2 separate regions of the Homo sapiens genome follow, and region 1 is linked to region 2. The links come from fine-mapping of genetic effects on plasma protein levels. A gene starts in region 2. The other region holds a variant in brackets. All regions are shown on one strand. Distances are between the middles of the regions.

Region 1 (2,924 bases), 25 kb after region 2:
ATAAATTCAGAATTTCTTCTCAAGATCTATTGATCACTAATTCATGTACACTGAACTTGACTATGTATTCTGATCAGGGATCCCCAAGCCCTGGGCCATAGATGGCCCGGGTACTGGTCCATGGCCTGTTAGGAATCAGGCCGCAGAGCAGGAGGTGAGCAGCTAGCGAGATTACTGCCTGAGCTCTGCCTCCTGTAAGATCAGTGGTGGCATTCCATTCTCATAGGAATGCAAACCCTTTTTTGAGCTGCACATGCAAGGGATCTAGGTTGTGCACTCCTTATGAGAATCTAATGCCTGATGATCTGAGGTGGAGCAGTTTTATCCCAAAACCATCCCCTGCAGCTTGCCAGTCCATGGAAAAATTGTTCTCCACGGCACCAGTCTCTGGTGCCCAAGCAGTTAGGGATCACTGTTTTAGATAACAACGTTTTTATTTCTTTGGCTCAATAAGGTAAAATTAGTAGGTGAGAAATATACTATTTCAAGCACTTTTTCATCATAATGTTTAGAAGAGGAACTTACTAAGAGCACAAGATGTATTCCCAATAAGTCATATCAATGTCTCATTCAGCCACATGTTTTATCTCTGATAATGGCACGTGAGCTGTGTGTGATGAAATGTTATTAAAGATGGGATGTATGTTTTAAAAGCTTCATTTTTCCTGAACAGCCAATGCTATAGCTCTTGTTGATGAATTTTTAAAACCCCAATTGTACTAATTCACATTTCTTTTGGACTTCAAGGTTGGTGTATTAGTCATTTCTCATGCTGTTAATAAAGACATACTTGAGACTGGATAATTTATAATGAGGTTTAATTGACTCACAGTTCAGCATGGCTGGGGAGGCCTCAGGAAGCTTTACAATCATGCTGGAAGGCAAAGGGAAGAAAGGCAACTTCTTCACTAGGTGGCAGGAAGGAGACCTGCTGAGCAAAAGGGGAAAAGCCCCTTTTAAAACCATCAGATCTCATGAGAACTCACTCACTATCACAAGAAAAGCATTGGGGTAACTGCCCCCATGATTCTCTTACCTCACACCAGGTCCCTCCCACGACATGTGGGGATTATGAGAACTACAATCCAAGGTGAGATTAGGATGGAGACACAGCCAAATCATATCAATTGAGGAGATTTAGTGAACCACATGTAATGTCAACCTGTGGACTGCATCATTCTAGAAGTCTCCACAATAGACACCACAATTTCCAACATAAGATTTATCAGTAATAAAGGTAATATTTTGGGTTCTTATTTGCTTTGTCTTGTTTTATTTTTATTCATTTATTCATTCATTCATTTTTAATTTCTCAACTGGCAGAGAAATTGAGCAGTAAGGTGGTGGGTTATTTACTTGGTCCTTCTTGAACACCATTAATAAACA[A/G]CTTACAAACATAATTCCTTCTCTTTCACACCATAACTATTTGACTTTATACAAGCTACTTAAATTTTAAGTCTTGGTGTCTTCATCTATAGAGTGGAGTTTTTGATAGCTTCTTACCATGGAAGGTCACTGTGAAGATTAATAATGAGAAAATACGTGTAATATATAGTTAGTGCACATCACAAAATATAAAAGACACTCAATAAGTGGTCATCTTTTTCTGTTCTTTGTATCGCAAGTTGAATTTTAAATGTCATACCATTAGTATAAACAGGACGGTGTCATTATCTGAGAATAATTGGAACCTATAAAATATCTGCATATATAAGGGGCCAAAATTTCATTGTAAGTTGAGCATTTCTATATTGAGGAACAAAACTAAAATATTTTATATTATTTATCAAATTTAGATTTTAACTACAAATAAACATTGATTATTAACACAAAGAATAAATCAAGCATTATTTTTTACATTTGCATTTCTGTTTATCCAACAAAATTATATGAGACATTATGCCCCATTTCACATTTTAATTCTGCAGCATGGTTATATTTCTAATTATATATAACTCATTAATTTTTCAAAATTTCCTCAATTCTTTGCTATTCAGATTATTCTCATATCCAGAGACTACCCATCATTGTCCTCTATCTTTTTAAAAGTCCATGATTTGTCTCTATAGCTGACTTTTCTTGTATTATATTGGGTTGTTAGGGCATTAGAGCATTCAAAAAATTAGCTAGAGACTGATCAATAAGATCTTGATTGGTTGAGGATGGGTATTTGTGCCAGGAATAGAAGGCTCTTTGAAAGGAAACTAATTTTATTAGCCATATGCTCAAAAGTGAATGGTGCTAGGTCATGGCAACTTTTGATTCTTGATTTTATGCATCTTTTCAACTACAGGGATTTGGATAATGATGACTTCAGTAACTAGAATATTACTGGTTAGCTACGTTAATAGTAAATTTGATAAAATATGTCATAAACTGTTTTTTTAACCTTAAAGCTATATCACAAGAAAGGACATAGAATATAAAATAACTTTTAGTACTTTAACCTCAAATTTGTGATTTTTTTGACCCCCCACAGTTAGAGGTTTTTCAGGCTGACATACCTGGGATTTAGAAACTCACAAATAACCCCTGTGGTCCCTCCTTCCCAAGAGTCTAAAGTAGCTCTCCATTAGGAGCCTGAAACTCCTTCAAGTCATTAAGTGATTGATTTTCTATCAAAACAGAATGAAGGAGTGAGGAAGGAAGGAAGATAAACAGGGAAGAAAGGAGGGTAGAGGAGAGAGAAAGATAAAGGGAGAAGAAAAAACATAAGCTGGAATCTAAGTGCTCTGAAAAAAATGAGACTGCAGCTCCCTAAGTCATCATCAAGACTTGAAGCAGAACCCTTGAATCAGAGAATATTCAGATGAAATACTCTGTTTTAGGGAGAAGCTACTGATACAGTTGTTGCTTCGATGAGGAGAGAAAGTAGATGGAGCCATTATCCTACTGATATATTTTCAGTCCTTCCCCTCACCCTT
Region 2 (2,924 bases):
GTGTGTGTGTGTGTTGTGTCACATTATGTCATGGAGAAAGGGGTGTGTGTGTATGGAGAGGAGAGAGGAGGTTTCACTTTCCATCTATTAAGAAAGGAGTTGAATACATTCCTCTCAAAAAATGTTTTCTTAACTTATTAGAAACAACAACTCAGAAACTCTAAATATCTAGTAAATTAGTAACAAATATATCCTAAATTTATGTGGGTCAAATTAAAAGTTTAAGGGTCTATGTACTGGGCAGTTCTTTAAATTTGCATTCAAATGAGAGATGGGACTCCAGGTGTGTCTTCTAAACTTTGGACCTAACCATTTCTGGAACCATTCCTGGGCTGTCAGGTGGGAAGACGGGTGCCAGTAGTTCCGTGAGAGACGTTTCATGTCAGCTAGCACTGGGAGGAACAAGCCCCCACAGCTTACCTAGAAATGCCAGCTAAGAGTCATGGGCTGACAGGCTCTGGGGCAATCAGAGAATCAGAGAGAGGCTGGGAAAATGAGAGCTGCTTGTTCAGGCTGCCTTACTTTCTTTGCACCTACCCAGCCAGAGACACACCTACTAAAGCTCCAGGTTTTACAAAAAGCAAAGATGCACTCTCCAGCCCACCCTGTCTTGCTCTCCAGCTGGTAGCTGGAACACGGTCCAAATACATGCTTAACATCACAAAAACTTCTTTCCTTTCACTTACCTAAGCACACCCGAACTAACCTAACCTGAAACCCCAAAAATATGCCTCCCTTGGCCTCTGGAGCAAGTCAGTTTTGAAAGCAGTCCTATCAGCAAAGACACCAGGCAGCCTCTCTCACCCCTACCACCATCATCTGCTGGCACCCAGAAAAGTGGCACAGGGTGAAGGCAAACTCGATCGAAGAGCCCTCCGAGAAATCGTACGTTCCTCTCACTTACTTTGAGTTGGAAACGTCCTCTCTGGCGCTCAGTCTGCCTTTGTTGCAAGGGGCGAGGTTGCTACCGCTGAGTCCAGGTACCCGGCTCGCTGCAGCTCCTGCTTGGGCCGCTGCTGCTCTCCCCGCCTTCTGGACGGATGACTCACTGGTCTCTTTCTTCCCCTCTCTCCACTTTGGATTTTCCTCTGCTCTGGGGCTCTCTTGGCGGGATTTTTGGACTGGAAGGCGGGGAACCTGATCCTGCCTTTGACTCAATTACGCCCTGACAGGGAGGGAACGGAAGGGAAATGGAGAATGGGAGGGATGAGAGGAGCGGGCCAGGAGGACGAAGGCTGGGCGAGGGAGGGAGAGCGCTTTGCACTCGAGAGCTGATTGGGAAGCTTATTAAAAGCAGAATACTCCAGGGGCAGTCTCTCCCTGCGGAGCAAGAAAACGGATTTGAACCAAGAGGCCATGAGATGGTACCTTGTTTTGTTTTTAGCAGAGACGAAACACAACATTTCTTTTCCAAACTCCACCCATGATCTATTCTTCAGATGAGTGCAAAGCCACTTTGCCAAATAGGATATTTTAAATGGACAATTGATGGCATTTTAGGTTACATTTTTGGCCCCCCACAATCCTTTAATGATATTCAGAATGGAAAAGCACTCTCTTCAAACCAGCCTCTTCTTCCACCCACGAAAGCCCTCTCTAAACACAGAGACAGTAAGGTGTCAGTCACATCTCACCTGCAAAGCACAAAATGTACAAAGTACTTTTTCTCAATTGTCACAAAGAGTGACAGACGTCTCAAAGTTCCCAATTAAGTGCTACTTACCTTTAGGGAGAGCTCTTTCCTTTTTTGGTTTCCTTGGTGCCTTTAGCAACCTATTTAGTAACATGCCTTTGACACCCAAGAATTTAGAGGATTCGTCAAAGTAGCTCAAACTCTGAGGTTTGTAAAACTTGGAGGCTGGGCTTTGCGTCTCTGGAATTGTCATTTCATTCAATACAGGAAAGACGCTAAGGCAATGCATAGGTAAATATTTATGATAAAGATGAGATAAAAGTATTGTGTAAAAGGATTAAGATGTATTATACAAATTCACCCAAACATTTTCGAAATGTAAATTTCGAGATTTTCTGCCACTTATCAGCTTTTCCTGCTCCGTGGCTAGCTCCTTTTACCTACTTTTACCTTTACTGGTCAGCTTATCATTTGATGGCGTCCTTCCCAAATTGGTTGTAAAATAGACCACATTTTTCATAATTCTGAGGTTACATCCCTTCATTTCAATTTGACAAATATTTATTAAGCAATTTGTTTACTTAGAACTATCCTTAAATCCCCAAATTAGAAGCATTGTCTTGTGGCAAGTAGTTTTTAGGGACTTGGGGCTCTTCTATTGACAGCTACCTGTAGAAATGTCCCTTGGAGAAGTTGACTGGAGCCAGACGTGGCTCTACAAACTCAATCAAGCAGTCAATCAAGCTTTTCAAAAGGAAAGGCATCAGAGATGCACTTACACACCTACAATTTATCCCCCTTCCCAAACTCTTCATATACATACCACATACAATTCTCAAATGAAATAACTAAATAAGGAAGCTGTGTTCCTTTCTCCTACACACAGGCTTCAGGTTACCTGTTTTCCTTTTGTGATTCCACTTCTGTGTGAAGCAAGCAGTGCTTGTTTTAATCAGATTTCACCTGTATAAAGTGTGGAGAAACGCACATTAGCATTTTTTTTTGGCATTTTTCCCAGTCCCTTTACCAAAAAAGATATCTCAGCATTCTATTAACACTCCATAGGGGCAAAGTTTCTAAGGCATTGAACAAAGAGCTATCCATTTTCTTTCTGTTCTTCAGCTTTATGTTAACATATACAAATGTAACATACAGCTAGCTACCAGTTAGGTGAACAATGCTGGCTTGATTGAGGTGTTCTCTATAGGGCTGATAAAGTAAGCATGAGATTCCCATGATTTCTACTCAATTACATATGTTACACCAAAAATATCACCCTTTATTCAGATGG

Which allele goes with the higher level. Alleles are on the strand shown, and positions count from the first base shown. The strength of an association depends on the size of the effect and on how common the allele is.
In carriers of allele A in region 1, the plasma level of the protein whose gene starts at base 1,199 in region 2 tends to be lower than with G alone (weak association).

What was found. A credible set is the group of variants that fine-mapping cannot tell apart. PIP is the chance, under the fine-mapping model, that this variant and not a neighbour inherited with it causes the effect. Protein levels are from antibody-based Olink assays in UK Biobank. Linkage for the fine-mapping came from a reference panel and not from the study's own genotypes, which makes the PIPs less certain.
Region 1: its variant is the best candidate, but not a certain one, in a credible set for the plasma level of the PTN protein (UK Biobank, PIP 0.66).

Annotation. Positions count from the first base shown.
Region 1 is chr7:137,367,526-137,370,449 of GRCh38, forward strand. No RefSeq gene overlaps it. Among named protein-coding and RNA genes, the nearest start is that of PTN, 25 kb to the left of the region's middle. The variant A/G (reference allele first, on the strand shown) is at 1,387.
Region 2 is chr7:137,342,535-137,345,458 of GRCh38, forward strand. PTN (pleiotrophin) reads right to left here and starts at 1,199. Exons shown (of 5, transcript NM_002825.7): 1 at 905-1,199. RefSeq lists promoters at 993-2,924, 993-1,738 and a cis regulatory region at 1,742-1,751.